2 separate regions of the Homo sapiens genome follow, and region 1 is linked to region 2. Evidence: fine-mapped expression QTL. Tissue or cell type: whole blood. Region 2 holds a variant in brackets; the other region holds the start of a gene. All regions are shown on one strand. Distances are between the middles of the regions.

What was found. PIP is the estimated chance that this variant, and not a neighbour inherited with it, causes the effect.
Region 1: it holds the start of SLC12A7, and the variant in region 2 is fine-mapped to the expression of SLC12A7 in whole blood (INTERVAL, PIP above 0.99).

The regions. Positions count from the first base shown.
Region 1 is chr5:1,110,063-1,117,953 of GRCh38, forward strand. It overlaps SLC12A7 (solute carrier family 12 member 7), which reads right to left and starts at 2,001. Exons shown (of 24, transcript NM_006598.3): 1 at 1,806-2,001. The coding sequence starts at 1,929. RefSeq lists an enhancer at 7,354-7,887.
Region 2 is chr5:1,135,399-1,146,474 of GRCh38, forward strand. It overlaps a transcript of SLC12A7 not described here. Among named protein-coding and RNA genes, the nearest start is that of SLC12A7, 29 kb to the left of the region's middle. RefSeq lists enhancers at 1,772-2,304, 5,096-5,939. The variant A/G (reference allele first, on the strand shown) is at 5,364.

The sequences.
Region 1 (7,891 bases), 27 kb before region 2:
TCGCCGCACCTCTGTGGGCTGAAGATCAGGATGTGATCAAGTGGATTCCGAAGGGCAGCTGCGTGCCCGTTACAGCCTGGCAGTGGCTGGGCACCGGGCCCTTTCTGTGGAAGTAGGAAGCGGGTCCAGCACAAAAGCGCCAGGTGCAAGTTCTCTGCCAGTTCGGAGAAATCTCCCAAGTTCAGCTCACACCACAGGGCCACCCTCAAAAGTGTCCAGAAGCCCACACCTGGCCCATGCCCTCCCGTTCTCAATTTCATGAAGGCCAGGGAGCCTCCTGACACGCCCGTAGCAGGACCTGAGTGCGCGGGCAGCGACATGGGCAGCGCTCAGCCAGGGCCACTTCCTGCTGGGCAGACACAGGCCCAGGGCACTGCTCAACAGCCTTGAGAGTAGAAGAGACAAGAAAACGAACAAGCACAAAATTCTCTCTGGCTTAAAAGCAAATGACACTTACAGTCTAAAGACAAAAGTGAACCTGATCAGCCTTGAGAAGGGGCCGGCCAGACAAGAAGAGGCTCCTTCTGAGTGCGTTCCGGGGGCGTTGCTACAAAGCTCACACAGAAAGACCACGCCAGGGCCCACACTCCTTGGTGCTTCCTGCCTCCACGGTGGTGACTGGAGAGAAGGGGCTTGGACTCACGGACCCTGCTTAGTTAGCACTTCACCTGGTGTTGAGCCTGGCGCCCCGCCTGACCACTTCCAAGATCTGGGCTGGCCTCTGTGCAGAGGAAGCTGAGACCACTCTTCGCCCGCCACGGGGACCCTGATGACGCACCCCAGGCCACCAGGCCACTGCCTTCACGGTGGGTCCCCACCCGTGTCTCCGGGTTCCTAAACTGCCTGGAGGGGATGTCTGGCCTTTCCTGCCCGGGATGGTGGGTTAGGAAGGATCTGGGGTCTGGCACCGGACTTGTCCCTGGACAGACCTCACCTTCCTTCCACTGCCAGGGAGCAGGGAGGCTGCCACCCACTGCATGAGACCCGGGCACATGCGGGCACTGCCAGCACGCGGGGTGGGGGCTGGACTGAGTCCGGACACCTTCTCAGAGACTCCGGATGGAAGGGCCTAAGAGCCTCCGGTTTCTAGAGGGGGCTGAGATCCGGGGAGTAACTGGGATTTGGAGCCAGGATGGAGGGAACAGGGCTGGGGGATTCTCTCCCCAGCCCCGTCCCCACCCCCTAGAGAAAGTGAAAGTGCTAGAAACCTCCAGATTCCCGGAACGGGGGACGGGAACACGGAGGACGCGGCCTGAGCAAGGCCCCGGTGGCTGCCCCCTCCCCAGCCAGGGCGCAGTCCTTCCTGTTCCGCCTCTGGGGGGTGGGCGGCTCCTCCAGGGTCAGGCGGGGGCAGGACGGGCCGGCCCGGGCTAGTGTTACCGGACGGCCGCGGCGCAGGGGAAGGGAGAGCGCGGGGGACGCAGGACGCCCCGGCTCCCGAACCGCCCGGGTCTCCACCGCCACCCCTGTCCCACTAGGGACCACCCAGGGGCCCGGGCTCCCTCCGGAGGCGCGCTCCAGCCCCTCCCCGTTTCCATGGCTACCAGCAGCGGCGTCCACACCTCTGCCCCCGGTCCCACCCGAGCTGACCGTACCGGGAGCCCTGGCAGGGCCCCTCGCCCCCTAGCGCTGCCACTAACGTGGGGTGGGGGCCCTCGTGGGGGACCGAGAACAGGCGGTGGGGGCGCGGGAAGGGGCGCCTCCTGTACCCCCGGCCCCGCCGCCCGCCTCCGCTCCCGGATGCCGGGCCCAGACCCGCGCTCGGGGCGCTCGGCCTTTGTCCGGCCAGGTGCGGCCGCGCTCACCCGGGCTGGGGCGCTCGGGCTCGGGGCCCTCGGGGGTGCCCGGAGCCTCCGTCCGCTCGGCAGTCTCGTCCCCGCCGCCGTCGGCGTGAGCCTCCACGGGCACCACGGTGAAGTTGGTGGGCATGGCCGCCTGCAGCCGACAGTCCCCGTCCCGGCCCGGCCCGCGCTGCGCCGCTCCCGCCGACGCCACGGGACTTGGAGGCAGGGGCGGGGTCCGACCGAGCCGCCCCGCCCCGCCCGGGCCACGTGACTTCACCTGCTTGCCCCGCGGCCCCACGAAAAGTTGGCCCGCGGCGACTTCCTGCAGGGACCCCAACCCAGGCTGCGTCTGTCTGACCGCCGCGACCCGGGACGCGGGGCTTTCGCTGCCTGCGCTCCCGACCATCGCAGAGCCCGCGAATCCCCGCTCAGTCTCCTGCACCCCCTCCTGCTCCAGCCCCCTGCCCCTCCTGCTGGAACTCCCCGCCCTCCCCGCCCTCCCCGGCCCCCTCCCCGCCTCCCCTCTTGTCCCCTTCCCCGACCCCCCACTCCTGCTCCAGCCCCCTGCCCCTCCTGCACGCCCTTCTGCTGGAACCCCTCACCCCTCCTGCACCCCCCCACCCTTCCTGCACCCCCTCCTGCTGGGCCCCCCTGCCCCTATGAACCCCCTCCTGCTGGAACCCCTGCCCTTTCTGCACCCCCTCCTGCTGGGCCCCTCCTCCTTCTGCGCCCCCTCCCGCACCCCCTCCTGTTTGCCCCCCATTTCCTGCTCCAGCCCCCTACCCCTCCTTCTTCCCCCTCCTGTTCCCCCCTGCCATCCTCCAGCACCCACCTCCCACACAGTCCGCCCACCCACTCCAGGCTGTCAACACCCGCTCAGACCCTGGGCTCCTAGCCTGGCTCCTGGCTAGCCCAACCTGGCTGCAAAGGCAACTCCAGTGGAAGGAGCCTTGGATAGCCTGGGGGTGGGGTACTCCGGAGCTTGGTCCAGCTCCAGTTTAGGGACCTAACCCAGTAGAGGGAGTCCCCCCCCCCACCCATGACAAATACCACCCACGAAGACCCCAGTCTCCTCCACACCTGCCCCAGGAGTGCCCCGCGGCCCCTGCCCTAGAACCCTCCCTTCCCTCCTTGGGAAATGTTCCAGAAGCTCACAGGGTGATGCAGGGAAGGTGGAGTTCCAGAACCCACCAGGCAGACACCAGGATACCACCGGCCAGCACCTGGCACATTTCTCAACAAATGACTCATGAAAAACGGAACAATCAGATGTCCGTCAATGGGGAATTGGGCTAAAATGCTATGGCACACAGGTGCAATGAGTCAGCCTTTATTCCTAATCACCCACAACTGCTGTACGACAACAAAGCAGAAACACAGGTGGTGTGGGCAAACACGGCCACAGCCTCTTGTCACGTGGAAAATGGGTATGGCCTGGCCATGTTTTAGCCGCTTGCCTGTCTAATCCTAAAAGGCAGCTGGAGGGGAGTGATGGCCTCCGGGCTGTGGGATCACCGGGCTCTGTGGGTTCAAGGAACGCAAGCCCAACCTCTCCAGCCATTTCCAGTAAAGCCAGTCATGCCCTGGGGTGGCCTAGGGTTCTACCCCTTTGCCCCATGGACTCTTCTGGGCAGAAGCTGTAGGCCTGGGACCCTCCTGGAACGTCGCCCATCCAGCACCAGCCCTTGCAGAGGTGGGGGTTCCTCTGGCCTGGGTGTCTGGAGCTGTGCCTGCTCCACACTCTCACCCCACCTCCCACCAAAGGGAGCTCAGGGCTGTGGATGGTGCTAGGTCAGCTGCCTCCCTGGGTCAGTGGGTTGGAAGGTAGGAAACCATCACCTCCCCAGAAGATAAAATAGTTCCCAGGCATCCTTATGAGGAGGGCTGGCTTTGCTAAAAAGATCCAGGGGGTGGGAACAGAAGTGCCCAATGGGGTCAATTATAGGGTTCACACTTAGGGTGCTGGGTAAACCCTCTCCTCAGTCACCCCAGCAGGGGCTTCTGTACATTCAACCCTGGTTGCCACCCAGCGCTATTCCCGAGGGTTGGACAGAGCTCAGGGTGGGCACGAGGCCTTCCCAAGTGATGCCAGCAGGAGCAACAGATGTGCAGGGCTCCCGTCGCACATCCAAGCTCTGCTTCACACCCCAGGACCCCAGGGCCGGCTGCCCGCCATGTGCTGGCTGTGGACCTTCAGAGGAGCTGGTTTGGAGGGTCTGTGGCCAGGGCCAGCTCCCGGACTCAGGACTCATCAGCTTCATTTTACAGAGGAGGAAACTGAGGCCCAGGAGTTTAGGGTCCTGTGGCAGCTCCGAGGGTGGTCTTCTCTGTGATTACAAAATCTTGACTAGGACCAGGGGCCATGGCTGAAGCACCTGGGTGGGTGCCCAGCCCTGCCAGGCAGAAGGCAGGTGGCTTCTCTTGTTTAAATCTTAGATCTTACTTGTGGGAGACCTCGGGTGGGGGGTGAGGTCTGCTGCCTTTTGCATTCTAATCAGGTGAGTCACGACAGGGATCAGCACCCTGTAAGCACCTGCGGGTCAAGACAGAGACCCTTGCCGGAGCCCAGAAGCCGCTGCAGGCCCCTCCCATCCCATCAGTAGCCCATCCCTAGGGGTCTGGTGGCCCCTCCCTTCGCTCTGTGGGTTTCCGTGTCCACGTATATCCTCCCACACGGCAGCCTGGGGTTAAATGTGCGTTGTGTGACTTTCAGTGCTCTCTTCCTACCCACCTCCATCCCTCTGTCCTTTTCTGTACCCGGCACCTGTTGTAGGAAGTGGCCCTCGGACACGTGGAGGTACCCGAGGCCTGGGTTGGAGCTGCATCTTTCGGTGCAGGCCTCTGCGTCTCCTGGAAGTGGGCACCTGGAGCCAGGGGACTGCTGGGATCCGGGTCCAGTCCCCTGGCAAGGCCGGGGGCTCGCAGAGGGAGCCACGCACTGTCTGGTGGTAGCTCCTCCGTCCGCAGTCGTTGGTGCTTGATGTCTGAATCGACAGATTCATGGAGCAAAATGGTGATTTTCCAGTGCGTGGTGGCTTCGTCATGAATTCACTGGAGGGAGAGGCTCATCTTGTCCGTCTGGCCATCTGGATAATGGTGCCCACAGGAAAGGCAGGGCAAGGGTGCCTCTCCCTCATTTGTCAGTTTCCACAACGGTGAATTGGTTCCCGACAATCTCCCAAGTATATTTGTACATCGCTGATGAAACACATTGGTGGGTCTCAGTCGATCACCATTAGTGCCCTTTCCAAGCATCGGTGTCCAGCTTTGCCCAGGGGGCCTCTTCAAATGCAATCTCGCATCCTTATGATGTGAGCCTGGTCATCTGCGATGGCCTCTTGGCCGTGTGCAGGGCACAGCCAGGGGAACCCTGGGATTTAGTGCGAAAGTGTAGCCGATGGTGGTTACATTCTGTGTGTAGATTCTCGAAACAGTCCCTGCTGCCTGCCACCCTGGGGTGGAGTTTCTAATGGATTAGGACGGACACCCAATGCCAGCTTCCAAGCCAGGAGGCCGCTCGTGCCCACGGCTTGGAATCAGGGCTGTGGCCTGGGAGGGCTCTCACCAGACGCAGGCTGCCTCCAGGTATCTGTGTGCCTCTGCCCACGGAGCTTCTCCCCAGGTCCGCGGGTCCCCCCAGTCCACTTCTGCTTTCCTGTTAGGGTGGGGGGCTCATCTCCTGGTGCGCCATCTGCATCCTTCTGGGCTGGGAACCTGCTGTCGGGTATCAGGCAGGGCGCACCTCCAGGGCTGAAGGATGCAGGTGGGGCTGGCAGGCAGAGTGTCCGTGGAGAGCTCCGTGTCCAGGGAAGGGGACACCTGGAGGAGGCCGGCCCTGGAGGCCCCACACTCCTTCTCACCAGAAAGCCACCCGCCTTCTGCCTGGCAGGGCCGGGCACCCACCCAGGTTCTTGCCTGTTGGCCCAGCACCCATGGTGAGTGGGGGAGAGAGCGAATAGGGCAGAGCAGAAGAGAGAGGGGAGGAAGGAGAATCGGGGGAAGGGGGAGGGAAAGGAAAGAGGTGGGAAGGGAGGAGAGGGAAGGGAGGCCCCAGTTACCCAAGGCTAAAGTGATTTTTAAAAAACAAACCTTTTTTTTTTTAAGCGTGGTGAGCCTCTCCTGGCAGGGTGGGGTATGTGGACATCAGTGGAGGAAGCAGAGTCTCCGGCCACCTGTGGGACCCACACTCTCCCTGCCCAGGAGTCCCACCAGGGCCGAGAATTCTGCCCATGGCCAGGGTGGCCCTAAAGCCCCACATCCGCCACCACCTGTGGGGGCTCGAAGGGAGCTGTGGTAGGCAGGGATGACAGAAGACCCCAGCCACAGCCCCAGGCCCATGGCTGCATCTCCCCTGAAGAAGCAGCCCTGTCCCAAGGGTTCTGCAAACAATGCCAGGCTCTTCCCAGGCAGGCACCGCAAGCTGCCCCCCGCCCCGATCCCTGGCTTGCCCAGGGCGGGGCCTCTGGGCCTGGTGGATGGTGGGCCTGGCCTGGCGCTGGGGAGCCTGTCTGCACAGTGGCCAGGTACGTGGGGTTCTGAGCCTCCCCCGGGTCCTGTGCCTGCTGGGCAGGGGTACATCCCATGGAGCTGAATCTGGGAATAGAAGGGGCCTCCCCTCCCACAGAGCTCGTCTCAGACCATCTGTGTCTGAGACTGTAAGTGACGCCAACAGAAGGTCAAGCTTGAGCGACAAAGCTCTCAGTCCTGTAATTCACGGACACTGAGTCTTCGCTCAAGTTCCCTCTGGAAGATTCCGTGGATGAGTCCGACACACTCTTCCCCTCACTCAGGAGGCTCCAGGATTTTTAGACCACGTGTGTGGCTTTCCTTCTCTCAAAGTGTAACTCACATAATGTTACTCAGAATCTCACACGGACGCCCGTGAGTTGCAGACACAGGGAAGGTTCGCATCTCCTCTGAAGTCCAAGCTGCCCAGAAGCCCACCCACCCCCCGCCAGCTCTCGTTCCTGCTCCACAGGTGACTTCTTTCCCGTGAAGCTTGGGCAAATGTTTGCTGTCGGCTCAGGGGGAAAGGCCATGCCAGGGTCCAGATGGGCTCAAAACCTCCCAACCTGGCAGACACGCAGCCCTTCAGAAATGGAAGCAGAGCCCAGGACACGATGTGGCCAATCCTCTCTCAGACGTCATAAAGAGCTGGGTTTGGAAGACGAGGCCAACCCTCATGGATGCCGCCCCCGACCCCAGCAACACCATGAGATCAGGGATTTGCTGGCTCTGTCTCAGAGCCGCGGAGGGTCCTGCTCAAACCCCAGAGCCGTGGGGATGGGCTGGGGGGCTGGTGGGGAGCGTACTGCGAGGGGCCACTGAGCAGGCTGGGGTGAGCTGGGCCTGGCCTGCGGGGGTGGGGGTGCAGCCTTCGCTGGGGAGGCAGCCAGGGAAGGGGTTCCTACCAGCCCGAGATGGAGCAACGAAGCAACTAGTGAAGCCAAGTTTGCAAAATTATCACCGTTGGTGGAAGGGTTCCGACCTGACTCCATCTTGGTTCTGACCTCCAAGCTGTCCTTGTTCCTTCCTGGGCGTAGGCTGAACTAACTTTGGGAGGAACTTAGTTTATAGTTAAAATAAACCTCCTTCTTGCCTGAGGGCTAGACTGCCTTTGTAGGATTAACAAATTAGCCACAAGATTAAAGAAATTGTGGTTTAGGAGTCATGCAGCTGGAGGCTACAAGATTCTGACCCTCCCTAAACTGCTCCTAAAATCCATGCTTGAGATGTTTTGCGGATCCTTGTTGCGCTAGATGGATCAGCTGGCACCACTCAGACCAATAGACTGGCTCATCTGATCTTGTGACCCCCACCAGGAACAGACTCCGCACAAAAGGACAGCTTCAATTCCCTATGAGTTCATCTCTGACCTGACCAATCAGCACTCCTGGCTCACTGGCTTCCTCACCCACTAAGCTGTCCTTAAAAACTGATCCCTGCCGGGCGCGGTAGCTCACGCCTGTAGTCCCAGCACTTTAGAAGGCTGAGGTGGGTGGATCACGAGGTCAGGAGATCGAGACCATCCTGGCTAACACGGTGAAACCCCGTCTCTACTAAAAATACACACAAAAACATTAGCCGGTCATGGTGGCAGGTGCCTG
Region 2 (11,076 bases):
TTCCAGGGCCTTGGACAAATGCCTCAACACTAGCCATTCTCGCTCCAGCCCAGGTGCAGTCAACTGTGGGTGATGTCACCTGCGGCCCTCGTCCCCAGCCCTGCTGCCCCGGGATCCAGGGTGGCCATGGAGATACATGATGCTGGTCCCAGGGTTGAAGTCGCCACAGGGGTACAAAGACAGCTCCAAAACAAGTCTAGGGCGGTGCTTACCCCTAGTGCCATTTCTGTAAGTGTGAACATGTGCAAAGTGATGCCACACGCAGCTTCAGGTGCGTGCATGAGTGGTGACAGTGTGACGATATTCCTGGAAAGACAAACATCCCATTCAGGGTTTACTGAAGGCTCAGCTTAAGTCCCTCGCCCTGGTAAGGGCAGGAACACACCAGGTCTCTTGCAGAGGAGTGCAGTTTCACAGCTGGTGGGTTTTCCAAAAATATCTTCAAGAGTTTGACAAACAGTGCCAGCTTGGACTGCACCATCCCCACATCCAAAACGCACTCCCCGTTTCCCTCAACCTCCCTGCTCATCCTGTAAGTTTCCCACAGAAATGGTGGCCTCGTCGGCCCTGCGGGGTGCAGGGGTAAGCAGCACACCATCTCCAGGCCTGGCTCGGGTCCAGAGGACACGGATGCACATTGCCCCTTGATTCATGCTGAGATTCCCATGTTTAAGCAAACAGCTGCTGATGAGAAGGTTCAGAGGCCATGGAAGAGGAGACTGCGGAGAGGCCACAGGAGGAGGGAGAATCGTGGCCGTCTCTGCTCCTGCAGGCACTGCTGTGCGGCTTTGTCCTCCCAAGGAACCATCCGTGCAATAGAGGGAAACACTCCACTGTCCCTCCAACCCAGCTCCGAGAAATCACGACTCCTCCTGACACCCACCAAGACATGAGACACGACTGACACACAGACATGTGCACACACCCCAACACCAGGACACGCAGGCACACACGTGCTCAGACACCAACACCAGGACACGCAGACACACGTGTGCTCAGACACCAACACCAGGACACGCAGGCACACGTGTGCTCAGACACCAACACCAGGACACGCAGGCACACGTGTGCTCAGACACCAACACCAGGACACGCAGGCACACACGTGGTCAGACACCAACACCAGTACACGCAGGCACACGTGTGCTCAGACACCAACACCAGGACACGCAGGCACACATATGCTCAGACACCACCAGGACACGCAGACACACGTGTGCTCAGACACCAACACCAGGACACGCAGGCACACATGTGCTCAGACACCAACACCAGGACACGCAGGCACACACGTGCTCAGACACCAACACCAGGACACGCAGGCACACGTGTGCTCAGACACCAACACCAGGACACGCAGGCACACGTGTGCTCAGACACCAACACCAGGACACGCAGGCACACACGTGCTCAGACACCAACACCAGGACACGCAGGCACACATATGCTCAAACAGCAGGACACGCAGGCACACATATGCTCAAACAGCAGGACACGCAGGCACACATGTGCTCAGACACCAACACCAGGACACACAGACGTGCACACATACCACCAGGACACACACACATGTACTCACACACCACCAGGACACACATGTGCACACACACCAACAGCAGGACACACACACGTGCTCACACACTCCAACACCAGGACACACATGCAGACACACGTGTGTCTACAGCCAGTGTTTCCCAGCCCAGAGCTGGCTGCACAGAGCCACACCCAGCCACAGTGAGGCCGCTGCAGTCCCGGGTTTTCACCCCCTCAAGCTCACCCTGCCCCTACTCCAAGGATTCATGCCCCCATCACAGGCGGGGCCACCTGTGCCCTCTTCCCAGAGCACTCGAGGCCAGGCACGATCCGGAGCCACTTCCTGCGTAGCCCCCTCCATCTGTGCCCCGAGAAACCAAGGACTCCGAAGGACAAGGATCAGACCACGAATGACAAAGAACCTTGGCCCAGAGAGCCAGGACTCCATCCCTGACTGCCTGCCTCCCCACCTTGTTTCCTTACAGCTCAGCACCTGCCAGGGACGTCAAATACACCGCACCCAGCCCCAGGGGGTCCCCACTGCTAGAAGACCACCTTCAGCTCCAGCTACACCTTCCCTTCCCGTTGTCCACACCTTCCCCCTCCTCCTCAACCTGCCTGGACGTCCAGACCCCCCGAGCAGGCACTGAATGACCCCGTTCCCCTCCGGGTGGTCCCCACTCATGTCCATGGCCTCATCCTGGACTTGGCAAACAGGGCCCGCCCCAGGACTTCGCACGGCTGTCCTTGGGCCACACATCTGGGCGATTCGGGGCCGGGGCTCCTCTTCCTGGACATGGCCTCTGCAGGTCAGGCCCTCCCTGCTCGCCCAGGTGCGTCATCAGAACCCTTGGTCTGGCTGGCGGAGAAGACAGCACAAGCGCCTGGATCTGCCCCTCCCCCGGCACCAGCTCCCCGGGGCCTGGCGCACTGTGAGGAGAATCATGGATGTCGGCGCCAGCGCTGTGGAAGACACCCTAAGGGGGTCCAGTGAGCTGTGGCAGAAGGAGCAGTCTCTCTTGCCGGGCTGGTTCCTGGGCTCCTGGTTCCTGAGTGACCCTGGAGCAGGGATAGCCGCCGGCACCCGCCCCTCCTCTTCTCAGAAGTGGTCACGCTGTGTCCAGAGTTGGTTCCTTCCAGTGGGTTCTTGGTTTATGCTGACTTCAAGAATGAAGTCCCAGATCTTTGCAGTGTTACAGCTCTTAAACGTGGCACGGACCCAAAGAGTGAGCAGCAGCAAGATTTATTGCAAAAGGGGAAAAGCGGAAAAAAACACAAACCTTCCACATCATTGAAATGAACCCCAGGGCACCACCCACTGCCGGCGGGGTGGGGCAGGGCAGGGCGGCTTTTATTCCCTTATTTGACCCCACCCACATCCTGCTGATTGGTCCATTTTACAGAACACTGATTGGTTCATTTTACAGAGTGCTGATTGCTCCATTTTTACAGAGTGCTGATTGGTGCATTTACAAACCTTTAGCTACACACAGAGCTGCTCATTGGTGTGTTTACAATCCTTTAGCTAGACAGAAAAGTTCTACAAGTCCCCACCCTACCCAGAGGCCCAGCGGGCTTCACCTCTCAACCTCATAGGGCCTCCTCCTCTGTGTGCCTCTCTCCTCGTCTGTTTCTGATTTGCCAGTGGGCTTAGAGCCCGCTCACATAAACTGGGGCGACTTCAGCTGGAGATCTTTACCCCACATGCAAAGATTCTTTTCCAAATAAGGTCATATTCTCGGGTTCCAGGAATCAGGACATAGATGTAGCTCTTTGGAGGCCACCGTTTAGTTTACTACAAACCTTGAAACCAAAACAGGATCAAGGTCCAAACTTAGAAGGACTTGGGCTCCAGAGAGAGGCCCAGGAAGCTAAGCCCCACTGCCCGACACAGCCCTGTGTGCACAGTGGGAGCCCCAGGGTGTCTGTTCAACTGCAACACACAGCTTTCTACCAGGTCCTTAACACATGCTGGGTCCTAACATGTGCCCTGAGGTGAGCCGGGGATACTCGACTCCAGGGCACTGGCCAGAAGCCTTGGACCTGCACCCACCACCCAGGCCTCTGAAAGGAGAGCAAGCTGAAGTCTTGACTTTGAAACAGCTGCAGGGGTCGCCCCTCACCCAAGCTTGGGGTGGGGGGGGGGCTCTGGGCGGCAGCAGGTGCACTTTGGGAGCCTCCGATGGTCCCCACAGCTGGGCTCCCTCCTCATCCCCATGGGCGTAGCCCACCAGGTGGCTGCTGAGTCCTCATGGTCCGTAGGCAAGAGGAAGGGGGAAAGTGTGAGCCCTTGGCCTCCACGGCAGCCGGCTGGGATCCTGGCGGGGGACCCTCGCTGGTAACAGCATCTCCCCAGGACGTGCGGCCCCAGTGCCTGCACCCAAGCCCAGCCCTGGTGGGGAGCAGCCCCTGGAAGGCAGGAACCACTCCAGGCAAATGCAGCTGGTGCTCAGCTACATCCTCACGAGGGCCCTGGGCCCCAAACCAAGAGGCGGCTCAGCCTGACAGATGCGGTTCTGGGAGCTGGGGCGGTTGACACTGCCTGGGCCTTGCCGGCTTGGCCTTCTCTGAGGGGTGGTGTCCACACAGCAGCAATGGTGCCACATGCCGGAACCTGGAACCGAGGTTGCCTCGAGAACTGTTTGGGCAGTGGCCCTAGCGGGTGTGGGTGCCGGGAAACAGGAGGCAGAGTGGCCCCCATGTTCCTCTGTAGGCGTCCGCACAGCCTGCCTTCCCCGAGTGCACACGGCGAGCTTGCTTGACCCTGGGGTGGCCACGGCCCACTTTTGTGACCCACGTCCCTCCTCCCGGCAGGCCCCGTGTCTTTGGGGAAGGTGAGTAATTCTGAATCTGGTTCCCGAGCCCCACTTCCCAGTCTAGGGCCACTACGTCCCCACGGTTCTGGGACACTTGCTGAGACAAAGGCAGATTTTGTGAGTCAAAAGGGACTTTCCACATCTCCAAACGGCGTTTCCGGATGCATGGGCCTCAGGGCTCTGATCCCAAGAAGTGCCAAGAAGACCTCTGTGGTCACAGATGCGGACCAGGCCGGGACATGCTGGAAGGTGTCAGGACACGCCCGGCCTGCACCTCTGTCTCCCAGAGCATCCCAGGTCTCAGGGCATCAAACGCTCCGAGGTCGGTGACCAGGCACCACCGCCTTGGCCTCAACCAGCACCCCAGAGGCGCCGTCCTGCCCTCAGAAGGCCCCCCAGAAACGCTGTTTCCCATCGCTGGCTGGCTGTCTCGTACCAGCCGCTGCAGCCCCGGCCCACCTGCATGCAGGGAGCAGGGCCCCATGGGAACCCAGGCAGATCCCCCTCCTGAGAAAGGTGGCCCTGCCCCAGCCAGCACATCCCAGGCGATGAGGCATGTGATCCCCATGGCCCCTCGGGTGAATCCTGACCGCCAATCTGCACACACAGCCACACCTGCGTCTCCATCTCCCTCGGTTCTGTTCCCCCCCACCGGGTCTGGAAGACACTGGTAAGCAGGGGAGGAGGAAACAGGTGCAGCTCCAGCGAGGCGGTGCTCCCTGCTGGTGAGTGGGTGCCCCCTGCTGGTGAGGGGGGGTGCTCCCTGCTGGCTTCCCCTCCCCACAGCTGTCCCTGGAGGGAGGCGTCATTCTGTAAACAGGGAGATGGGGTTCAGGACGGTGCCAGCATGCCCAGCAATCCCGGAGTTCCCCGTGCTCAGGAACTCGCACCGCTGGCTCCACGCTCTCTACTCCAGTGGGACAAGAAAGCTCTGCTCACCAGGCAACGAGAGGCGCAAGGGCGGAGCCCAGGGCCCCGGGGAGGGCTCAGGTGGCTGGCGGAGGGGGTGCAGGG[A/G]AGGGAGATTCACCCAGGAGGGCCATTGACAAGCACTGGCTGGGGAGGGATGTGGTCACTGCACCGGCATGACAGCTCGGAGTAGCTTCTAGGTGACCACGCCATGGGAGAATGTTCTGAGGGGAACCCCTTGGGAGGCTCAGCATGAGGCAGAGCCGTTGGGGGCTGCAGCCAAGGTGGGCAAGCTGGGCCTGGGCCAGTTCAGAGCAGCCAGGCTGAGGGGGAGGGTGGACACGGGACGTTTATACCAATACGCTCGGGCCGCTGTGGAAATGAGTGCAGCCAGGCTGTGCACACCACAGACACGTCTCGAAGCCTCGGGCCTGAAGTCCCAGGTCAGTGTGTGGCTGGGCTGCTCCCCTGAGCTGTAGGCGGGCACCGGTTCCGGCCTCTTCTTGGCTTGCAGGCCCCAGCTTCTCCCTGTGTCTCTGTATCGTCCCTGCTCTGTGAGTGTCTATTTCTGTGTCCAAATTCCCCCTTTTAATAAGGACACCCGTTATATTGAATTAGGATGCACCCCTGTGAGCTGTCACTTGATGACCTCTGCAAACAGCTCCCTCCCAATACCATCACATTCTCAAGTGCTAGGCAGTAGGACCCCCAGTCCTCTCCCAGTCCTAATGGAGAGATGTCACTGAGCCTGTAACTTGGCTGTCCCAGCCGTCCCTGCTGCCACGGGCACCACAGCCGCCATGGGCACCAGAGCCGCCACGGGCACCACAGCTGTCCCTGCCTCCCTCTCTGTGCTCTCCCCTGGCTTGTTTTCTGTATCTCCTGGGATGGAGGCTCCCTGGGGACTGTCTTCCCCACTGTGTCCTCAGCACCCAGACCTCACTGGGACAGCAGCCACTAAGCTTGTGTGGTCACTGAAGTTTATATTTAAGTTAAAATTTTTTTTAAAAAATGAAGAATCCAGGTCCTCAGCCACAGCAGCTACAGCTCAAGTGCCGATAGCCACATGTGGCCGGTGGCTGCTGCATAGGACAGCGTGGACAAGGAATAACTCCGTTGGTGCAGAGAGGCCACTGGACACTCAGGCAGAGACAAGAGGGTTCGCCGGGACAGATCAACAGATGAACAAATTCAGAACAAAATGCTTAGTGAGGGAGAAGTGAACTTTCATTTTGCCCAAGTCACCATTATCATGGGTGCTGCTGGCAGGATCAGACCTGGTCATGTGGAGTCTGAAGTGCTCCCAGCCACCAACTGTGGCTGTTGCTTAGAGATACCCCTCTTCCCTGCAGCCCTGCAGGACTTCCCGGGGCTTCCTGGCCTCCACCTTTGCTTCTGGTGCTAGAGGCGGGGCAGGTGGCGTCAGGGTGGCCACTCCCCTCCCCAGAGCTGCACTGGGCCGCAGTCAGTTCACCCGGCCACCCCTGGCAGCATCTCTGGGCCCCAGACAGGGCCCCTCCATACAGAGCCCAGACGCTCCACAGGGCAGGGGCAGCCCAGCCCTATAAGCCCTGGTGCCCCCATAATCAGGAGGAAGAAAACCTCCCCCGTCTCCTGTCCCCTCTCTCCCCTCTCCCCTCCCCCCTCGCCCCTCCCGTCTCCCCTCTCCCCTCTCTCCTCTCCCCTCTCCCCTCTTCCCTCTCCCCTCTCCCCTCCACCCTCTCCTGTCTCCCCTCTCCCTTCTCCCCTTTCCCCTCTCCCCTCCTCACTCTCTCATCTTCGCTGTCCCCTCCCCTCTCTGCCCTCCACTCCCCCCTCCCCTCCCCCTCCCCTTTCCCCTCCCCACTCCCCTCTCTCCCCTCTCCCCTCTCTTCCCTGTTCTCTGCTTCTCTGTGTGTGTCTCTCTCTCTGTCTCTCTTTCTGTCTCTGTCCATCTGTCTCTGTCTGTTTTTCTGTCTCTGTGTCTCTGTCTCTCGCTGTCTCTGTCTGGCTGTCTCTGTCTCCCTGTCTCTCTGTCTCTGTCTCTGTGTCTCTCTCTGTCCCCCTCCCCTCTTCCTGAGCCACTGCCCAGAACTCCAGGCAGGAGGTGCTCACGGCCCTCCCCACATCTTCCCCCTAGAATACCCGTGACCATCAGCTGCCCCCCCCATACACACCCCTCCCCTCCAATCCCAAACTCACTCAGAGCCCCTGTTCTTTGGGCAACGTGCTCAGAACTCAGGGGAGGTAAGGGGGAGTAGGTCAGCAGAAGAGGAAATGGACTTTCCTGGCCCATTCTCCATCCTGGGAGGGCACTGGGCCCTGGGCCCCAGGCCCCGGGCCCCGGTATTCATGGTAACGGGGGCTGAGAGGCGGCCAAAGAAGGCTTGTTCCCGTGCCGGGCACCACAGAGCTTACGGCTCCATCTGTGACACGGGCCTTCCTTCCCTGAGGGCCCCAACACAGCCTCCTGGGCAACATGCCCCTCCATCCGCAGGGTCAGAAGCCGCAGCTCAAGGATCACCTGCGGAAGGTGGCATTTCCCAAGACCGGAGCTTCCCGACATCCCGCCACCTCCCGCAGCGCTGGTGCCAGTCCTGTCGGATAAGGGGCAAGTGTAAGACCGGCCTCATCAGCTCCAGCAATTGTAACAAAGCGCCATGGGCGGGGGCTTCAACACTAGAAATTGTTCCCTCGCAGCCTGGGGGCTGGAAGTCCCAGACCAAGGGGCTGCTGGGCGGTTTCTCCCAAGGCCTATTCATGGCCCGCAGACGGTGGCTTCTCCTGTGTCCTCCCACGGCCGCTCCTCTGCACACACGCATCCCTGGTGTCGCTTTCTCTTCTTACAAGGACACGTCCTATTGGGTCAGGGCCTTCCTCACAACCTCATTTAACCTTAAGTCCCTCCCTCAAGGTCCTAGCTCCAGATACAGTCCCGTTGGGGCTGGGCCTCAGCTGCGAATCTGGGGGCACGACTCAGTCGGCAGCTGTCTGTGTCCTGCATGCGCCTCCACTGACCTTCCCAGGGTTCTCCCTGTGTCCTGGTGCTGCTTCTTCACCCAGAGCGCTGCCACCCACTGCTGAGCTTCAGACATGTGACCTGCCCAGTCCCCTCTGCAAGCCCTGCACCTTCCTCAGTACCAACCAGCAAACCCGTGGCTGCACCGGGGCCAGCAGACACTCTCGGGCAGAGTGCTGGGCACCCTGGCCTCCTGGGCACCCTGGCGCTTGGCACCCTGGCCTCCTGGGCACCCTGGCGCTGGGAAACCTGGCCTCCTGGGCACCCTGGCGCTGGGAAACCTGGCCTCCTGGGCACCCTGGCGCTGGGAAACCTGGCCTCTTGGGCACCCTGCCCTCCTACCCCTGGCTGGCTCGGGCGGCTGTCACCAGTGTGTTCTAAGACTGCAGCCCAGAACCAAGAAATAGGGAGGGGGCGAACAGCCCTGCAGGGAGGGGCACACCCGCCAACCTCAGAGAGGGGACCTGGACGCACCCACCACCCTCAGGGAGAGGACGTGGACGCACCCACCAACCTCAGGGAGGGGACCTGGACGCACCCGCCAACCTCAGGGAGGGGAAGTTGGCCGGCGCAGCGCCGGGTGGCGGGAGAGGATGGTGTCTGGGGCTTACGCCATGCCCAAGCTCCCACAAGGCAGGGGCCCACGTCCCGGGCTCCACGCCAGGGCCTTGCTCTGCCAGGGCAGCTCAGGGCAGCTCCGACAAGGAGTGGCCCCTTTGAACGAGATCCTGGAGAGTCAGGGTTTTCACTCCAGCTTTAAACCAGTTGCTCCCAGGCCGCCGCCACTGCCCCCACCCACCTGTTCTTGGTCCCAGCATCATCATGACAATTTGGGGGCAGGAATTCAACTGTGGAACGGGAGGAGCCCTCAGCTCCGGGTCACGCTGGGTGGAGGGCACGGTGAGGTCACGCTGGGTCATGGTGAGCTGGTGAGGCAGGCAGCCTGGTGGGCACCCGCCTTGAAAATGACCCCTCAAACCAGCGGACCGCACCACACTTTACAATTGAGTACAGCTATTTATCCATTAACACCTGTACCACTTCCAGACCAACAGATCACCAGGCTGCAGTGGGGACATGTGAGAAAATTACAGGCAAGGAAGCAAAGACTAGAACCAGGTGTGTCTCTGAGTTCCAGCCCTGCTGAAATGCCCGTCTGAATAAACAGGGGCCACTGCCATCCCGGCTGCGCATGCACAGGCCTCCGAGCGGCAGAAAGCAGGGATGACACCAATGTGGCTTTAAACCAGTGTTCAATTCCCATGGCTGATTCGGAACGTCCTGAGGCAAAACGTGAAGTTTACTGCATCCGAGGAAGGAAGTGCAGCACCCACAGCAGCAGCCAGCACCACTGGACCAACCGGGCCGGGGCTGGGGAAGGAGCATGTGCTGTCGGCACGGCCAGGCCGGGCCTGGAGGGCTGGAGAGAGCCTGCGTGGGACAGCAGCTGGAGGCCGCAGGGGGCCCAGGGATCACCCCTTCTTCAAAGGGAACCTGGCCGAGAACTCGGCCCTCACACTTGGGTGTGGGGTCTCTGGAGACAGGACAGTGAGTGGCCACAAGGGCCAGGCAGGGGCCGCTGCCAGTGGGCCTGGAAGACCAGCGAGGGCTCATGTCCATCACACGGTCTGTGCAGTAAATGATGGCCGGTTCCGCAGACCCCCTCCCTGTGGGGACACAGCTGCTGGGGTGGTCACCCCTCCCCCTAATTCCCAGCTGAGGTGCCCCTGCAGAAGCCCCGAGTGCCCAGCGGGGTAATTGCGGCCAGGTGCTTGCTCTTGGAGCACTGAGGAGCCATCGGAGGCTGCAGGCTGCCTAGCGGCCAGGCTTGCTGCCCCTTCCTGGAATCTGCCCACAGGAAGTCAGAGGCTGCCAGCCCCTTCACTGACCTTTCCAGGACCAGCCAGGAAGGGCTCACAAAGGATGTTATTTGAAACAGGAAGGTCCCTGGACAAAAATATCTCTTCCAAGAGGCCTGAAAGAGCACCTTGCAGAGAGTAATTTAGATTAAACAGGACCCCCTCCCTGGAGAGCCTGCCTAGGTGTGAATTGATTTAATCAAACTGGCCTCCTCTCAGAAAACTAGAGGCCAGGATCAAGCGCCTCTGTCCTCTGCAGAAGGAAGGGGCTGGGGGTGCGGGAGGGTTTAGTTTATCTCTAGGCCCCTACTGTCTGCTTGCATTTTCTTTTTGGTATTTTTTGTATTGTGATAAAATACACATAACATTTTACCATTTTTACCATTTTTGGGTGAGCAGTTCAGTGGCATTAAATGCAGTCACAATGCTGTAAAACCATCACCGCCATCCTTCTCCAGAACTTCCTTTGCAAAACTGCAGCTCTGCACCCATTAAACTGACTCCCATTCCCCTCCCCCAGCCCCTGGCAGTCCCCGTTCTGCCTCCGTCTCCCAGAATTTGACAACTCCAGGCTCTGCCTGCAACTGTTATTCTGCAGGATTGACCTTTCTGTGTCTGGCTGCCCCATCCCTCCTCATTCCCAAAGGCTCTCCCTGGAACCTGCTCCCAGCAGGAGGGGCCATTCCCTGGTCACCCACCTTCTTGAGGCTCCTCTGGGAGAGTCTCCAGGTCTGTGATGAGACCTCAGGGACCTGCCAGCAGGTGGGCTTTTGGAGTGGAGTTGTGGGAGCCCAGATGCTGGTGACCCCTGGAGGTGACCACCTGGGCCAGTGACCACGGACCTCCAGGCCTGGGTCCCTCTGACCTGGCCGTGGAATGAAGCCTGGGGTGCCTGCATGTGGGTGGGAGCAGTGGTGGCCTGCTGAGAGGTGTTCAAAGCCATCTCTGCAGTGTAAACAAAAAA